2 separate regions of the Homo sapiens genome follow, and region 2 is linked to region 1. Evidence: fine-mapped expression QTL. A gene starts in region 1. The other region holds a variant in brackets. All regions are shown on one strand. Distances are from middle to middle.

Evidence for each region. PIP is the estimated chance that this variant, and not a neighbour inherited with it, causes the effect. A credible set is the group of variants that fine-mapping cannot tell apart.
Region 2: its variant is the best candidate, but not a certain one, in a credible set for the expression of FBXL3 in whole blood (INTERVAL, PIP 0.83).

The regions. Positions count from the first base shown.
Region 1 is chr13:77,022,519-77,030,518 of GRCh38, reverse strand. It overlaps FBXL3 (F-box and leucine rich repeat protein 3), which reads left to right and starts at 3,360. Exons shown (of 5, transcript NM_012158.4): 1 at 3,360-3,692. RefSeq lists silencers at 3,240-3,289, 3,460-3,739, 3,760-3,819.
Region 2 is chr13:77,059,907-77,071,329 of GRCh38, reverse strand. It overlaps MYCBP2 (MYC binding protein 2), which reads left to right. Exons shown (of 83, transcript NM_015057.5): 69 at 619-699; 70 at 2,499-2,765; 71 at 3,466-3,749; 72 at 5,242-5,338; 73 at 6,596-6,715; 74 at 8,633-8,734; 75 at 9,540-9,668; 76 at 10,029-10,161. Among named protein-coding and RNA genes, the nearest start is that of MYCBP2-AS1, 9.9 kb to the left of the region's middle. The variant A/G (reference allele first, on the strand shown) is at 4,945.

The DNA of each region.
Region 1 (8,000 bases):
GTCTCAGCTCATTGCAGCCTCCATCCCCAAGTTCAAGCAATCCTCCTAACTCAGCCTCCTGAGTAGCTGGGACTACAGGTGCATGCCACCACGCCCAGCTATTTGTTTGTATTTTTAATAGAGACAAGGTTTCGCCATGTTGCCTGGGCTGGTCTTGAACTCCTGAGCTCAAGCAATCCGCCTACTTTGGCCTCCCAAAGTGCTGGGATTAGAGGCGTGAACCACTGCAGCCAGCCTGCTTGGAAATTTCTTTAGCCAAGTCCAACAATTAAATAAATGCATTTCTCTACTTTCCATGTTGCCATAGACAAATGTTTCCCTGGGCTTGCCATTATTATATGAAAGATATCTAAAGATATCCTGATTTCTCTGGACTCCATTAACAATTCCTTATTGTCTTTCCAGCACTCACTAACAATCTCCTCCCCTTCCAGCTTCTGCCTGTTGCACAAAATTCCTGCAGCTAAAGTTGTACGGAAGATGAACTCACAATCCAAAATTATAAAATACATGAGGAACAACCCACCATGAACAAACATTGACACATATCATGATTAGACCCCCAATTATTTCATAGGATTAAAACAATTTAAGAAAAAAAGAAATTACAAAGTGAAAAGAGTATCAAGAAAGATCAGGTAGATATGAAAAAGAACCAAATAAAACTTTTAGAAACGAAAAACGCAGGCAAAGGTAGTCTTAGCAAAGACTAAATAGACTAAATTAGTGACTTGAAGACAGATCTACAGAAATTACAGACAGAAAAGTAAACATATACAATTAAGAGATATGTAGATACACCTCCCAAGACAGAAAAGTTTTAATAATTTAAATAGACATTCCCCTCTCAAGGAAATGTTGCAGTTCAGGTAAATCCACATTCTTCAGTGTTGGCTGCACATAGTGACTTTCTTCCAGTACAAAAAGAGAGGGAAAAGGGTAACTTTAAGTAGAATAACTTGATCTCAACCTCTGATTAATGTTGACATCAACAAGGATAAGTCGTATTAATAGATGTACCCTTGATATGATGTGATGAGAATGGTACTTTATACCTCTGTAGTTTTCCTTCTAAAACATCCATAGTCCCCATGTAATTATAAGAAAAAAACCTAAGACAAACCCCAATTGAGGGACGTTCTACAAAAATACTAAAGCAGTACTCCTAAAAACTGTAAAGGTCATCAAAAACGAGGAATTACAAGATGGTATTTAAGGAACTACTGCAACATAATCTAATCTATCCTGATCATTGGTGTACCAAGGCTGGGGTGGTGTGGGAATAGTCTACACCATTCTACGTGGTGGAGGGGGTACATTGTCTGTGGATAATTTAAAACAATAATAAAGAGACTAATTGTTCATCTGCTTTTTATTACCACATGCATTGGCAATTCCAAACAGGGTCAGTAATAAATTATTTTTCCCAGTTGGATCAATGTGCTCCACACTCATCCTTTCTCCCACCTACCATGCCACTGATCTTGATGATACAATTGATAAATGTAAATAAGTACTGACTGATTAAAAAATAAACGTTTTTTTTCAAAAAAAATGAGGTGAAATAAAATATTTGCCAATAACAGGGAAGAAAAGGGGTATTCAATAGGTCAAGTGTGCCAAGGTCCTTGTCTTGTTTAGGAGGAGAATAGATCATAATGGCGAAAAAAGAAAAAAAAGAACTATGATTGGAATGTGATATAACCGTAATGTGATACAATATTAACGTAATGCAACCTATGCTCATCATGTTTACTGAATTGGTTTAATGTATTTTGCTGATCATTTATACTGTTCACCCAACTTTAAATAAATGGGCCTGTATTTGACTTATTTGTTTTTCCTTAATAATTATCATTGTCCTTCTTAGAACTTCCTATTGTTCCTCATCATCCAGTCACTGAGGGACCTAAACAAATGTTGCAGCTCAGGCAAATCCACACTCTTATGCTACTAGAGGCTTTGTACAGTTTGATTCAGTGATCTGACAGCTGACAGGCCCTTAAAAAACACCGAACAAACAACACTGGCATTTCCCCACATTGAATTCATTTTATTATAGAAACAGTCTCACTCTCTCACCCAGACTGAAGTGCAGTGGTGACATCATAGGTCACTGTAACCTCCTACTCCTGGGCTCCAGCCATCCTCTCGATTCAGCCTCCTGAGTAGTAGCCGGGATTACACCAAGCTCGTCTGATTTTTTAAAATTATTACTCTTCTATTTTTTTGTAGAGACAAGAGTCTGGACATATTGCGCAGGCTGGTCTCCAATTCTTGACCACAAGCAACCCTTCTGCCTTGGCTTCCCAAAATGTTGGGATTACAGACATAAGCCTGTACCACTCCTGGCCTCACACTGAACTTCGACGTAACTTTATACATGGCTTCCTAGCTCAATTTCTTGAGAAAACGGGAAGAACGGAGAGCTCCCTGGGCACCACTGCTTTTCAGTGTCTTATACATGGGTCTGAGTGTTCTAAGACATCTTTGAATGGAAAACTACTTTCTCTCTTTTTTTTTGGAGGTGTAGAGAGGAATGGCGCATGATTCAACTTAATGATATTGCACCTAAGAATGTTTCTAACTGTAAGAAAACGCAGTATCAAAAAATCCAAACTTTAAAACAAGTCAACTAGGTAGCAGTTACAAAGATGCCTTGATTTACAAAAGGATTCACCAGAGGTTTTCTTTTCAGCAGCTTTGTAATCCTTTACTTTCCCCATTGCGTTTCAAAAGCTATTTACAAATTTCAGGACTCTATTTCATAAAGCAAATGTCGTTTTTAAAATGTAATAACTCTAATGATAAAAGCCACTTTAGAAATATTGGGAAATACAAATATTTGAAAAACAAAAACCATGTGCAATCCCAGCGTTAATACTCTCACTATTCTGGTACATTTCCTTGGCATCTTTTAAGCACCACTTATGCACATCGATGCGCGGGTCTTCGGAGACTGTATTTAACTCCTCGGTTTCAGGCATCCGGGGCGGCCACCCGCGGGCCGCGGTCCCCAGCAGGCTCCGGCGAGACTCCTTCCTTTCTTTTTTCTGCTCCACCTCCCTAAACCTTCCAGTTTCAGCCACAGATAGTCTCTTCCACATATAGCTAGCTTCAGCCCTCCCACATTCCATCTCAAAACAACAAAAAAAATCCCCTTCAAGCGGGAGTCACATCTCTGGCAGGAAGGCAGAGGCTCGTCCCACAGCAAGGAGACTGGGGCGGCCGCAGCGCGCGCTCCCGCTTGGGCGCGGCCCTACTCCCGCCGGGCTCCGCCCCCCCCCCGCCCCCTTCCCGCCCCCTTGGGCGGGGACGCGCCAGGGAAGCGCGCGGCCGCGAGCCCTGGGCGCCATTTTAGACTCGCTGTTTGTGGCCCAGGTGCAGGAAGCTTACGCGGTGGCAGCCGCTCGCTGAGGTAGTCTCTCGCGGCGCCGGGGATCCCTGAACACAGACAGCGCGGGACTGAGAAGGAAAGCTTCTTTCTGGGCAGCCAGAGCCGCAAAGGTGGAGCCGCGTTGGCGCCCTCCGCGGGACCAGCGCCTCGGATGCGGGCGGAGCGCGGGGGGCCGCGGCTGCGGGAGCGCGAAGCGGGGGGCCAGGGGCGCCTCATGTGAGAGCCGCGGGACCTGCAGCCGCCGCCGTCCCCGGAGCACGGGGTGGTGTGTGGGGGAAGCCGCCCCCGGCAGCAGGTAACGGCGGAGGGGCAGGGCCGAGCCCCGCTGCGACGGCGGAGCCGGGGAGGGACCGCGGACCGTCTGTGGGCGGGCCGGGGTGGGGTGGGGTGGGGGGGGGCGCGGGGGCCGGGGCGCGCGCGGGCCGCTCCTCAGGAGTGCCGGGCGGGGCGCGGGGCGCGGCACCCAGACCTTGGAGCTTGCTTGGGGGCGTTTCCCCGCCGTGCCTGCTTCCAAACATGTCAACAAGGCGTGGTGCGTGTGCGGCGGCCGCCTGCAGCCTGCCCGCGACGCCGCCGCTCCCGGGTTCGCCGCGGCTCCTGCCAGGCTTTATGACCCTTGGCGGGGGCTGGTGACAGGCACCATGGAGCTCGCACTCTGTGGGCTCTCCCGGCGTCGGCTACGCCCGTGCTGGTAGCTTGAGCAATGAGGCACTGAAATGTCAAAGCAAACTGCCCAGGGTGGGGCGCATGAGAAATGTCAGGGGAAGCCAGTCGGTGGGGAGGTGGCGCAGGGAGGAGGGGACGCCCCTGCCGCTTAGCCAGGCGAAAAACTTGGTCAACTTGTGTTGAGCGGATTCGCGTCTGCCTTTGGCGTGGGCAGTCCTTTAGGTGGGGTTGCAGACAGGGGTCAGGAAGCAGCCCAGTAAATGGTCTGTATCTCCAAGCTGAGAGGTGAGAGAGATCATTTTTATTTTGTCGTTGCTAATGATATCCAGTTGAGTGACCCAGATTTTTTAATTAGAATCCTCCTTTTCTAACTTGAAAAAAAAGTAACTTAGTTTCTGTTATCTCTGAAATATTTATAAAAATACCATCAACTATCAGTTATCTATCTATCTATATGACCTGTAGACAGATTTTCGCCACTGTGCGCTCTCTAAGCATTTAGTTGTGAGTTAACCTCTTTATAGTGTTTTATTCTTGTAGTTCAGCCAAAGAATGCATATTAGTTTGATATTAGTAAAAGCAGAACAGAAAGGAACTGTGATGCCAAAATAGGCTTTTTAGAGTTAACTACAAATGAGCATTTAAAATTATTGCATGCCCAGTGTAAAAGTGCCTAATACAACGATGCACACGGCTAGCTGTTCACTTCCGGTCTTCACCTAATGAAGTTGCTTCTTTCAAAGTTTTTTTTTTTTTTTTTTTTTTTTTGAGACAAGGACTCACTTTGTCACCCAGGCTGGAGTGCAGTGGCGCGATCTCGGCTCTAGCGATCCTCCCACCCCAGGCTCCCTAGTAGCTGAGACTACAGGCATGGGCCACCATGCCCAGCTAATTTTTGTAGAGACAGGTTTCATCGTGTTGCCCAGGCTGGTCTCAAACTACTGAGCTCAAGCGATCCGCCCGCCTTGTCCTCCCAAAGTGCTGGGATTACAGGCGTGGCCCACCGCGCCCACCTGGAAAGTTTATGGAACATAGAGTTAGTTCACTAACTCCTTGTGCTGCTCAGCTAGTCTGTGGTCTTTCCTCAGTAGTTTGCTATTTAGCAGTTTGTAGTCATATCAGTCCCTCACCAAAAGCTGTGGTGGCCTAAGTTGCATTATTTGGGGCCTAGAAGCTTTGCAGGAAATTAAACTGCCAGAGCCCTGAAGAGGCCTAGTTTTGGTGCTCTAGATTTCTAGAGTCTAGAATGTCTCATTGACGTTTTATAGTACAGCTTGGTTCTCCACACTTCTTTTCAAATATAGGAGGTGTTTTCACTTTGACAAAAGTAGGAATTATAGGGTCCATTGATGTAAATTATTTGCAGGCTGGAAGATGCTCTGAGATGTTTAATTTTATGTATAGCAGAGTTTCATGTGTAAATAGATTTAATAAGATACTATTAAAGTAGTGTAAATTTTTTCATACATAAATGAAATCAACTTGGAAAAATTGACATTTAAAATTTTAAGTGTCCACTCACTTCTGTTATTTTCATGCACAAATGAGGATAGTGCAGAGGATATTTTTATTGGAATTTGGCCTTACATTTTTTTCAATTGCTTAATGCACTATAATTGTAACATAGACATATTACGTATGACAATTAACAGACTTAATTCAGCTATTTGTAAACTGGTAAGTTCTTAAAATAGGCTTTGGTGATCATATAGTGTTTTTATATCTAGATCAAGAGATACTGTCCCTTAGTGTTGCATACTGTTAAAAAAAATTTTGTCAACTTCTTTAACCTGAACTTGGAAAGGTATTTAAGTACATTTTATTTAAAACAGTACTATAATAGACAAAAGAAAGTTTCTATTTTTAGGACCAGCAAAGTATTTATTAGCAAAGACTATTATGTGAATAAGGCTACCATTTTATTTTTGTTTATATATCCATATACTCTAAAGTAAAATGAATCATTCCGTCTTTAAGTTGTCTAGTTCTGGTTTTAGAAGATTGTTCTCCAGAAACAGGCAATCAGTATTCTATAATAAGGTGTAGAAATTGCAAAGACTGTCATTCTTTTTTGAATCTCTGTATCTCAAAATTGTGAGTAGTTTTAGGTGGTCAGAAGAGAAATTATAAGCTCTGGATAGCAAACACTTTGTTCTTTGACCCAAATTTTATATACTAAAATTAAAGTAAGCCTTCAGGGTAAGTTAAAGCAGAAAAATGGGTCATAATAACAGTGTTATCTCAGCCTCTAGTGAGGGATTATTATTAGAAGAGACTTAATATTAAAGATTACAGTGTAGACTATACACTTTTCTCTAAACTTATTAAAAAAAAACTAATCTCAAGTCACACATAATTTCCAGTCTTCCATCAGACTACCTTCTTGCTGTCACCTCTGTCATTCTATTTTCTCTCTTGTTCTCTCCCTGATCAGTAGGGTATACGTAATATATTTTATTCACATAGTTGGGAATAGGAGCAGTGAAGAATAGGCAGTTTATTGCACATATGCTAAGACGTCTTTGACTGACTTTCATGGCATTAAGGTCAGAGGCCTCTGCCATTCTCTTTTTACTCTCCAGCCCTCAATCCTCTTTCACAAGTTTTGCGAGGTACTGGGTGGAGAAAGTCTGCAGAAACATTTGTTTTACAGTAATGCATATGCATATCCTTCATCTCACACAGGAATGAGAAATTCTTTTATGCTGATAGGCCAGAGGAGTGTTGGAGCAACAAGCCATCTTTCTGAAAGATTGTGACCCCAAGTTTAGGTCGAAACCACTACCCTGCCAGAACTGTTCTCTAGAAACAAAAGTATTACAGGCTCTGAACTAAGTAACTACCAGTGAGTGGTCTGCAGCCATTTAGTTTAGAGCCTGCTATACTTTTCCAAAAAGTCCGATTACACGGTAATGCATTGATAGTAAAAGAAAATGTGTAAAACATAAAAAGGGAAGAGATGTTTGCAAGAAAAAAAAATTACCTGTAATCTGCCGTCTACTGTTGGTTACTATAATAATTCAGTGAGTCTACTTCCAGGGTGTGTTTTCTCGTACACAAGCTCACTTGCCCTGTCTCTCTGACACACACACACACACACACACACACACTCTCTCTCTCTCCATTTTAAAGCAAAAATAGAGTCGGGTGTGGTGGTGCATGCAGATACTCTGGAGGCTGAGGTGGAAGGATTGCTTGATCTCAGGAGGTCGAGGCTGCAGTGAGCCATGATCGTGCCACTGCACTCCAGCCTGGGTGACAGAGCGAGACCCCATCTTGAATGAATGAGTGAACGGAATGAATGAATGAGTGAACGGAATGAATGAATGAATCATTCTCTGCCTTCTGGGTAGTAACCCTGGTTTTTAGCATGTTGTGTACTTTAATGTCGTTAATGCTGGACTGCTTTCCTACACAACAGTCATATCTCAACAGTTCAACAGTCGTATCTCCCCTTTGAAAAGCCTTAATAGTATTGCATTTCTCACAGAAACCCTGTTTTATTAAACTAATTTTGGAAATTTAAGCACAGGAATATCAAGTAATTTGCTCAAAGCCACATAGCCAGTGAGAGGTAGAGCCAGAATTCAAACCCAAGGAGCTTGGTTCCAGAGCCCATTCTCTTTAGCCATAATACTGTTTTGCCATGAAAAAACTATCTTTCAAAGAAACTAATGGAATGAAAGTGCTAAGAATACATAGAATAAACAAATAGGTATAATTCAGAAACACAACTTGGGGAAAACAGTGCAATATTAAGTGATGTGTTTGAAGAAGCAGCTACATTCCAGACCAAACAATTCATAGTAGGGGTGGTTTTGCTTATTTTAGGCGGAGTTAAGAAATGTCTGGCAGTAACACATAGCATAGCCCAGTGCCTGTCCGTGGCAGGGGGTGATTTCAGGAAGAAACTGTTCCACCTCAGATCATCAGGCAT
Region 2 (11,423 bases), 39 kb before region 1:
TGCGAAGATTAGATAAGATTTGTGTGTGTGTGTGTGTGTGTGTGTGTGTGTGTGTGTGCGTGTGCACACACGTGCATGCATATATATATATACACACACATATATACATATGTGGCACTTAGAAGAACAGCGTGCACATAATAAGCTCTATAAAATTTTAGCCTTTATATTTTTCCTTATGATACATTTCTTTGATGACTTGGTGTTCCGATAGCTTAATTTAAGACCACTATCATCACAGAGGTTTGTTAGGACACTTTCCTTTTAAACAAATGTTATTTTCCTGGATTGTTCTTCAAACAATTAAATGTGGGATGTGAACTAATAATGTTTACAATTTAGAAATAGATTTAATCAAAGCTACTCAAATTGACTACATTAAAGAAATTTGTGAAAGGAGAATATACTTCTCTGAATTTCCTAAGTTCTGAGATTTTGTTCTTTTTATTTCAAACTTTATCCTTTGTCTTAGTATTATAAGCCTCAATTTAAAATAAATTTACTTTAAAAATATATACACAAAATTATTTCTCAAGTTACTTTGAAATATCACATATACAAATTTTATTTAAAGAGACCACTTCATTCTTTTTTTTTTTTTTCTTTTTCTATGTAAAGGCAACATCAGATGCTGACCTGAAAGAACATATGGTTGGAATCATATTCAGCAGGAGTAAGCTGACTAACTTACAAAAACAGGTTGGTTAACAGCTATTTCATTGTCTTCATTAGTTTTGTGTGTGTGTGTGTGTGTGTTTGTTTGTTTGTCTGTTTGTTTGTTATTAGGGTATAAAGCAGGGATGTCCAATCTTTTGGCTTCCCTGGGCCATATTTGAAGAAAAAGAATTGTCTTAGGCTACACATAAAATACACTAAGGCTAACAATAGCTGATGAACTAAAAAAAAAATTGCAAGAAAAAAAAATCTCCTAATACTTTAAGAAAGTTTATGAATTTGTGTTGGGCCACATTCAAAGCCATCCTGGGCCACAGGCAGTCCCCCGGCTGCAGGTTGGATGAGCTTGGTATAAAGTATTTTGAAAAATTTATGAAGGCTTTTTTATGCTCGCCCTTTTATAGGTCCTGCAGAATGTGCCTGCCATTTTTTAGAGAGGAATGAGTATTTTGGCATACCTTCATCATTTTAAAGATTTTACTTATGAAAACTTGCTTACCTTGCTGCTATTTGTTATGGGTAGATTTTTTATTTGGTGTCAAATACCCAGCTATATCAGATTTGATTTGCATTTCCCATATTTCTTTTCCCCCATTCTTCTGTGTGTTGGCTGAGCAATTAACAGTGTTAACTATACCAGTGTTAATATTTTTAAATATAACCAGGTGAGGAAATAGCGCTATATTGTTCATATAATGGGGTGCTACATAACATAAAAATATCACTTCAAAAGTCAAATAAAATATTGATTTTAAATTAACCTATTATTCTAACTTTTTTTTTTTTCGAGAGGGAGTCTCGCTCTGTTGCCCAGGCTGGAGTGCAGTGGTGCGATCTCGGCCCACTGCAAGCTCCGCCTCCTGGGTTCACACCATTCTCCTGCCTCAGCCTCCTGAGTAGCTGGGACTACAGATGCCTGCCACCACGGCTGGCTAATTTTTTTTTTTTTTTTTTTTTTTTTTAGTACAGACGGGGTTTCACCGTGTTAGCCAGGATGGTCTCGATCTCCTGACCTCGTGATCCACCCGCCTCGGCCTCCCAAAGTGCTGGGATTACAGGCATAATATTTTTGTATTTTTAGTAGAGACGGGGTTTCACCGTGTTAGCCAGAATGGTCTCGATCTCCTGACCTCATGATCCACCTGCCTCGGCCTCCCAAACTGCTGGGATTACAGGTGTAATTTTTTTGTATTTTTAGTAGAGACGGGATTTCACCATATTAGCCAGGATGGTCTCGATCTCCTGATCTCATGATCCGCCCGCCTCGGCCTCCCAAATTGCTGGGATTACAGGCGTGAGCCACGGCACCCAGCCCTATTCTAACTTTCTACACTATTATTCTTTTCAATGAACTACAACATGAATTTATTTTTGCTTTATCTTTCTAGCAGTGTTTCATTGAATCTTAGATGCTTTCAATTGTAAAATGTCATGTATAATTTCAGTATTGTGAATCTTATCAGCTATAAAGCACCTTATGAACATAATGGTAAACCATGAGAAAAAGTGCCTTCAGTGATAAAATATGGTGATTGGTTTTTGACGTGCTAAACTGTAAGCATAGGCATTAATAACTTGCATATAATCAGTTTGCACATAGTAGTTGATTTAAATATTTCCATTTTTATTGTGGCTCCCTTAGCTTTACTTGTTTCTTAGATGAGTTAAGAGAATGACATATGATGGAGAATTAACTGGGAGAATAGTATTAAATTGAGTATCAATTTACATTCTTGTCTTATTCTTTTGTTTGCTTGTTTTGCTAGGAGTAGTAAATCAAACTAACCCTATATTTTTACATGTTCTGTGTTAACTTTAAATAGGTGTGTGCTCATATTGTCCAAGCTATTCGCATGGAAGCTACCAGAGTCCGTGAAGAATGGGAACATGCTATATCAAGCAAAGAAAATGCCAATTCTCAGCCAAATGATGAAGATGCCTCCTCTGATGCCTACTGCTTTGAGCTGCTCTCTATGGTTTTAGCACTGAGTGGCTCTAACGTTGGCCGGCAATATCTGGCTCAACAGCTAACCCTGCTTCAGGATCTCTTCTCGCTGCTTCACACAGCCTCTCCTAGAGTCCAGAGACAGGTGACTGATCACACTACAGCCTTTCCATTGCTTTTGTTACTTGAAACATTGTTAAAAGTTGCAATGCAAAGAGAATTATCTAAGGACCCTAAGTATAGATTTTTATTTCGTATTTTGTTATATTTTGTTTGGGGCCTGTATTTTACTCCCTTTTTTACTGTTTATAGTGAGAGTATAGAATAGTAAAATATGTTCCATTTTATTAATGTGTTGTGATAAGAGAGTATTCTGGCTACTGATTACCATATTACCATGAAATATATAATGTCATTTAGCCCTGACCAGAAAGAAAAGGTATTTTTTTTCGTGCTGCCTTGGGTTAGTAATTACCACTACTATTACCATTTGAATAGTATGTATATCATATTTTCTTCCTTCACAAAATGTAAAATAGTGTTTAAATCATATTTCTTTTCTTAAAGATTTTGAAGTTACAGAATGGTAGTTAGGTACATTAAAAAATGAAGCCTGGGATGGGGTACAGTGACTTATGCCTGTAATCCCAGCACTTTGGGAGGCAAAGCTGGGAGGATCCCTTGAGCCTAGGAGTTCAAGGCTGCAGTGAGCTGTGGTTGCTCCACTGCACTCCAACCTGGGCAACAAAGCAAGACCCTGTCTTTAAAAAAAGAAAAGAGAAATAAAAGAAACCTTAAAACATTAGTCTTTACATGGAATTCTCTCATTTTATTTTTCTTACCAGGTAACCTCTTTACTAAGAAGAGTTTTGCCTGAAGTAACCCCTAGTCGTCTGGCCAGCATCATAGGAGTGAAATCCCTCCCCCCAGCAGATATCAGTGATATCATTCACTCAACAGAGAAAGGAGACTGGAATAAGCTGGGTATCTTGGACATGTTTCTAGGATGCATTGCCAAAGCACTCACTGTACAGCTAAAAGCCAAAGGAACCACCATCACTGGAACAGCTGGTACCACTGTGGGCAAAGGAGTTACAACAGTTACTCTTCCGATGATTTTCAATTCCAGGTTAGTTATTGCCTCTATTTTAGTACCAAAACAGAATAGAGTGAGCTACTGTTCAGAAATTTAAGACATAATTTCAGATTTTACCTTGTTAGGTTACTCACCAAATAAAATCCATAAACAACTGGCTAATATCTAAAAAGGTCATGTATATAATAAAAGTGTCATTTATAATTAGTGGGGAATAGAAAGTAGGCTGAATATGTGATGTCAGAATATTTGGATATCCATGTTAAAAAAAATTCTAGATACCTACCTCTCACCATATACAAAATTAAACTTCAGTTTTAGGTAATATGTTTTTTTGCCACAATAAAAAGAAATAAATATGGGGGAATAAAGTAAAGTTCAGGTCAACTAAAGCTTTATGTACATTTCTTTTTAAAACTGTACTGGGACAAATTATAGAAGAATATTTTTGTAATCTTCAATTTGATAAGACCTTCTTAAACAAAACACAGAACCCAAAATCATATAGGAAGATATTTATAGATTTGACTATATAAAAATGAAAATTACTTGATAGGTGATAATATTTAAATGTTTTAAAATATAGGGAAATAACTTAGAAAAATACTTAAACCTATATAATAGACAATGACTTGTTAGCATAATATAGAAGTATGACTACAAATCAATTTTAAAAAGGCAAACAACTGATAAGAATAATAAATGACAAGAACAGTCAGTTCACAGAAAAAAACTTATAAATGCCAGTAGTCAGTTCACAGAAAAAAACTTATAAATGCCAGTAAACAAATGAAAACACCTCACTACTAATCAGAGAAATGTAGATTAAAATAATTGCAAAATATCTTTGATGCTTTGGCAACATTATGAGGAAATAGGCATTTTCATCTCATATAAATTGCTGCAGCCTTTTTGGATATCTGTTTATAATATCTAACTATATTTTAAATATGCATATCTTTTGACCTACCAATTCTACTTCTAAAACTTTCATGCATTTGCACCAAGGTATATATGCAAGGATGTTCTGTAATTGTGTGTAACAGTAGAGAATTAGAGACATCTGAACAGTGCTACTTGTAGAGCCAATCCATGACAATATGCAGATAACATCAGAATGTTAATCATTGTATCACTTCTTTCCTGTAGTCTTGCTAGGAAAAAAGTCAGCTGAACTAAATAGTAGTGTGCTTAGTGATACAGTGAATTTATATTCCGGTTAAGCTCC[A/G]CATTATCCGCATGTGCCCTAGAAATAAGTCGTGTGTGGTCCCTGGACTGTACTTCTAAAAGATGCACACAGAAATAATGTGCAAACAGAGAAATACTTGAAAGGGAACTCAAATAACCTTAACTGCTGTCTTGGGATTTGGGGTAATGGTTTGATGAATTTTCTTTTTAAATGTTTTAATTGATTCAGTCACTTAAAAATCTAAAATGCTGCATTCTGAAATAACATTTTCATCTTTTTCATTTGTTACTACTACTGATAATTTATTGGCTTTTTAAGTGCTAATTTTTCTTGTAGTTATCTCCGACGAGGTGAAAGTCATTGGTGGATGAAGGGCTCAACCCCTACCCAGATCTCAGAGATCATCATTAAACTTATCAAGGATATGGCAGCAGTAAGTTCCCATTCTTCTGTTTTGGCAGTGAAGTGCGGCAGGAAGCTGACACAAAACAGCTTACTCTGCTGAATTGATAGGAGATGTAGATTAGTGTAACTTTACTTAAAGACTATTTGTAGTATGTTAACTATCATGCTGTTTGTCTTTTCAGTGAGTGATAATTTGTCATTTATGTAAACCATGTTCATTTCAAATTTTCCAGTTAATTTGTGTGGGAATTGTTACGTGACTTTAAAATCTAATAAAATAAAATATGCTCTTTCAGACCCTAAGAAAGAACTTGATTCAAAAAACCTAAAGGAAAAAAAGAGGAAGAGAGCTCTCGAAAGTGGAAGTTTCTCATTCTCCTCAGTCCTCATGGTTTTTAAACCCTTTATTCTTCTTTATTAATGTCATATACCCTCTGTCTTAAGATGGTGGCTTCCAAAGGAGATCTGGGAGTGTGGAGGACAGGGAGTTACTTTACAGAATGCCTGGCTCTGATTAGTTGCTCCTTGTCATTTTCCACACATTGTATTATTTCTAGGAGGGCAGCCTGAGAAGGACAAGATAGTATGGAATGTAGAGTCAGAAGGAATAGAAGGCAGCTTGGAGAAGGAGGAGGAATTGAACTGCCCCTTAAATCATGTGGATATGAGAAGTGGGAGGATTTTCTGGGGGAAAGATGAAGTTCTATCACTTTTCCCAACAGCGTGGATATTTTCTCAACCTCTGTGGCAAACAGACTTTCTCAGGGTGTTCATTGAATTAAAATATTTAGGAGTAATATTTAGGAACACCTAAATTATATGATAGTTAAATGTTTGTTCATTACAAATCAAGGTAGCAAATAAAGGTAGTTGCAGTTTGAACCTGTTTATATTTTAGGTTCCTGTAATACTCATCTAAAGCAGTTAGCTTCACTGTGTAAATTTTATGCTAAGTGACAAACTTCTCAAACATAGATAACCTTAGTATTTCTGTTATGTTTTTATCAGATGTGAGAGTAATTGCCCTTGATTTCCAGGAAAAGAGTATTGAGAACTTAATTTTTTATTTATTTATTTTTAAATATCAAAATGATGATTAGAAGTTGAATTTTCCATAGGATCACGAAGAAATTTTAGTTCAAAAGTTTGTGCCCATAATCTAAAATTCCATGGTCTCACTAAAAACAAATATTTCCTTTGATAGGAGATGTTATTTAAGAAAAAAGAGTTTACTATGGTAATACATTTCTGGTCACTTATTAAAATACTCTGTTCTGCTCAATAGGGTCATCTGTCAGAAGCTTGGTCCCGAGTGACAAAAAATGCTATTGCAGAAACCATCATTGCCTTGACCAAGATGGAAGAAGAATTTAGGTCTCCAGTGAGATGTATTGCAACAACTAGAGTAGGTTTTGCTTTGTTTTGTTTTGTTTTAAATTTGGTGTGTATCATTGCGTGTTCTTTTTTAGTAATAGATTTAAACAAATTTTAATCACTAAGTCAACATAATTATTTTTTAACCAAATACCGTATTTATTGAAAAAGTATAAAGGGCTTTTATATTATGAACTAGTCGTTACTTCTCACTGTTATGTGTTCTGTGTCACTTGTTTTTGTTATTGTTTAGGAAGCCAAGGGTACACTGGTTAGAAAAGGCTAATTACATTGTACATTGTTTGCGTGTTGTCTTTCTAATGATCTGTTTGCTGTAGTTTACCACAGTAAGTTTAGTGCCAGCATTATGCTGTGATAGACCGAAGGTCCTTTGGAGACAAGACCCCTGCCTATGCCTGGTTGTTCCTAATGTAGAGCCCTGTAACTTACTTACAGGATTTATAGGTCTTACTTCTAAAAAGCAAGAAGTGCTTGTCCAGGGCAGGGTCAGGGTGGAAATCTTTGAGGAAATGAGATTGCATTCTTCAGATGACACATTTATAGTAAGTTTTAACCTGCTAGATTTCATGTCCCATATACTTCCAGAAGAGATTTGAGATTTCCTTGAAGGAGGGCAGTCTGACAACGTTAGGAAGAAGTGAATGCTGGTAAAAATTGCTTAGGTTAATCCTCAGAAATCTGAAGAAGATAAACTATATATCCCTAGGGCGGAAAAAGTCAATTTATGCTATCTTGCTATTATTGACTGTGACACCTGAAATAGGTATTTTTGACAGTAATCCTTTCCTACCACTCATGTGTTGCTTTCTTTCAGTCTGCATTCCCCTTCCTCCTTGCATGCATTATTTCTTTTTCTATTTTTCTGTCCCTATTTTAACATCTCTTGCTTTCTGTATCCAATAACACTCACATGCACTTCTTAGAGTTGAGCTAGTTAAGTCATTTTCTATTCTTCATTAATGAGGGGATATATCATTCTATATAAAACTGAAGCTTACCCTTTAAGCCTCAGAAATTTTTAACTATTTCTGAAAACAGTTGTCTTTTTTTTTTTTTTTTTTTTTTTGAGACAGAGTTTCACTCTTGATGCCCAGGCTGGAGTGCAATGGTACGATCTTGGCTCACTGCAGCCTCCGCCTGCAGGTACAAGCGATTCTCCTGTCTCAGCCTCCCAAGTAGCTCGGATTACAGGCATATACCACCACACCTGGCTAATTTTTTTTGTATTTAGTAAAGACTGGGTTTCACCATGTTAGTCAGGCTGGTCATAACCCCCTGACCTCAGGTGATCCACCCACCTTGGCCTCCCAAAGTGCTGGGATTACAGGCATGTGCCACTGTGCCCGGCCCTATTTTGGAGAACAGTTTTCTAAAGCTTTTAGACATGTATGTATTTCTGACAAAGTGCACCAAGTATAGTATTAGGCTTTCTGGGGCAACAAGGGGCAACAAAGACTTCTGAGGAACTTTTATTATCTAGAAGGATTTAATGTGTACCTGACTACTCATGGGACTGTACACAATTTAGCAGTTGCTGTACCACCTTCTTTGGCATTTAATGATACTAAATGGAAAAATATTCAGAAGACATTAGTAGTAAATATTAAATATGCCAATTCATTTATTCATATGTTGTTTACATAGTAGACCAATAAAGGATAATTTTATTTGTCAGATAGAAGACAGGGTGGTTCATCAGAGAAACAGTCACTTGTTCAGTAGATATCTGAGTGCCTCCTGTGTGCATGGCACATAGGACAGTGATCGTGTATGCCTGCTACCACATCAGGAAGACTTGAGTGCCACTGAGTATCTATGTATTTTCAAAATCAGCCAGCATTTATTGAGCTGTTGTGATGTGTCACAGTCAGCATTTCATAAGTCTTTCCTAAAAATTCAGTGGTGTAACAGCCTTCCCTTTCAACAGCTCTGGCTTGCTCTCGCATCCCTATGTGTTCTTGATCAGGACCACGTAGATCGTCTCTCCTCGGGGAGATGGATGGGAAAGGATGGACAACAAAAACAAATGGTAAGATCAGAATTTTGTAAGAATTTATCTTGCTTTCCTTTACAGTAAGCTTTAGCTTAGCTTAAAAACAAACAAACAAACAAAAAACACATCAACATAAACAGTTAGTGGATCTCTTGAAAGATTGTGTCCCTTCGGCCAAGTTCATCTCACAAGTCTATTTCAGAGAGTCCCTACTTCATAGTATATGGAAACTTTAGGGGCTTTTATTTAAGTATATTAAAGAGCTTTCTTCTTCTCTGAGTCATGTTTGCATCATATCAAAATTTATTTTTAGCCAGAGTCTGATTTAGTGACTAGATATTTTACTAAAATGTAATCAGTCTTATGGTAGGAAGGAAATAAAGCAATAACACAGGCAACATGACACACCACCTGTTCACATATATACTTAAGTAGGTTTGATGGGTATCTTTAAGTTCACTAGAAAGGAAAACTTTATATAGGCCCTTTCACCATTTTCTTATTAATGTTCAAGTTTCAAAAATAAACAGTTTCTTCCTTTGGCATACAGAATGTTTAGATATATAATGGGGCAGACATTTCTTAAGTCTCTAAGTAACAAAGTATACCTGTTCATTGTATTAATCATTGAACCTGCAAAGCACATTAATGATTGGATTTGGAGTTTTGAGAGATTTTTATAGTTAAGTACATTTGCAATAATTCTGTTTAATATTCAGATTCTAAATTCTTAATAGACTTCCGAATAACGGTTTATTTTTGTAAATAAATTATATTCAATTTGTATGAGAGTCTGAGACTTGCTTGTTAATCTAAGTAACGTGGAAATGTCTTATTTTAGCCTATGTGTGATAACCATGATGATGGTGAAACTGCAGCAATCATTTTATGCAATGTCTGTGGAAATTTATGTACAGACTGTGACAGATTCCTTCACCTTCATCGAAGAACCAAAACTCATCAAAGACAGGTGAAGATTTTTGTCTCTGGAGCATAAAATATGTTCAGTGAATTTTGAAATAAATGTGTGAAAGAGGCTTTGTGTAGTAGGGGGAAAAAGTGGACTTTGGAATCAAAGACCTTGGTTGAGTTCACAGCTGTCTCGCTTACCATCTATAAATAGCAAGTTGTTTTATCCTTAGAAACACTTAATTTCTCCATTTATAAAAAAGGGACTGCTGTGAAGATTAAAGAGAAGATTGGAAATATTCAAAACTTCTTAGAGTGCTTAAATGAAAGCCATTATTATTATTGAATAATTAAATTTTATACTCTCCCTTTCAGAGTGATAAATAAGCATATTTTTCCCTGTTCTTTAATGAAATAATAGGTCTTCAAAGAAGAAGAAGAAGCTATAAAGGTTGACCTTCATGAAGGTTGTGGTAGAACCAAATTGTTCTGGTTGATGGCACTGGCAGATTCTAAAACAATGAAGGCAATGGTGGAATTCCGAGAACACACAGGTAAAAGGTTTAAAGATTGAGCCATGCCTTTAAAACCCACAAAAAAAGATTAAACCGTGCCAACTGATTAAACTGTGAATAATTTTGAGTGATATTCTGATGTTTAATTATGACATCATTGATCTATATATTTACTAAATATATAGAGTGTTCTATGGTGAAGAGAGCATTAGACCAAAAGTCAAGAAACCTGATTTGCCACTAACTAGCTGTGTGGTGTCGAGCAAGTCACTTAACCTCTGGAACTCATTGACTTCATTTATAAAGTGAGAGGATCACAACTAATGGGGCTCCATAGATAAAATACATTTCTATTGATAATTCCCTTCTAGTTCTGCTAGTTGTTGCCCCACAATAAAAATTGCTGCACTAGATGATCACTAAGATCTCTATTTATTATAAGGTTGTATGATTTTATGATATTTAGAGGTTTTTGTAGACCTAATGCTTCTGAAGGTGTTGTGAATGGTACTGTTTCCATTGATAGCAATAAAATAATTAACAAAAATGAATAGACATAAAACAAAAGGTAACCTATGTATGTTAAATGTATTTTTATCTCTAAAACATAGTTTTCATTTTGCTGCTTTTCTAAAGTAAATCTTGTATATTCCTAGTTCAAAGTTATGTTGAATCTTACAAATTCTCAGTTTTCAGCACATCTGCAGTCTGCCATTTGACTGACACGAACTTCCAGTGTTGGAGTTAGGTGTAAATCCGAATCAATTTAATTCTAGGGTGACTTTGCATGCTGCAAGAGCATGACCTTCTTTTCTCATAGTTGATTTCTTCCTCCTATAATCTGTCAGTGCTGTATACTGCATTAATAAATGTTCTAATGTCAAACCATCCTTGTAAACCATCCTTTTTAAATAGATTTTTCTGTAAATATTGCTGAATTCAATATATTGATATTAATTATAGTTAGATTTTTATATCTGTGTTTAAAAATCAGCTTGGTCTGTAATTTTCAAATCTTCACGTTCTTTTTCTTATTGCTCTGTTCTTGTTTTATTGATTCTGTTTCTTCTTTAAGTATTTCAAACATATTTAAATTCCTTTTCAAATTGCAGAGTTCCTGAGGTAGGAATTCTGTTTTTCAAGTTTCATACTCTGATGATAGGCTTTATACCATGCCTTATAATTTTGTTATATATAGTTAAAGATTTCCCTAACTTCTGTGTATTTTTATTTAATTTTTGGTTATCATATTTTTTATGGTATTGTGCATTTGGAGTCAGGGGCTTGTAACAGCTGCTCAG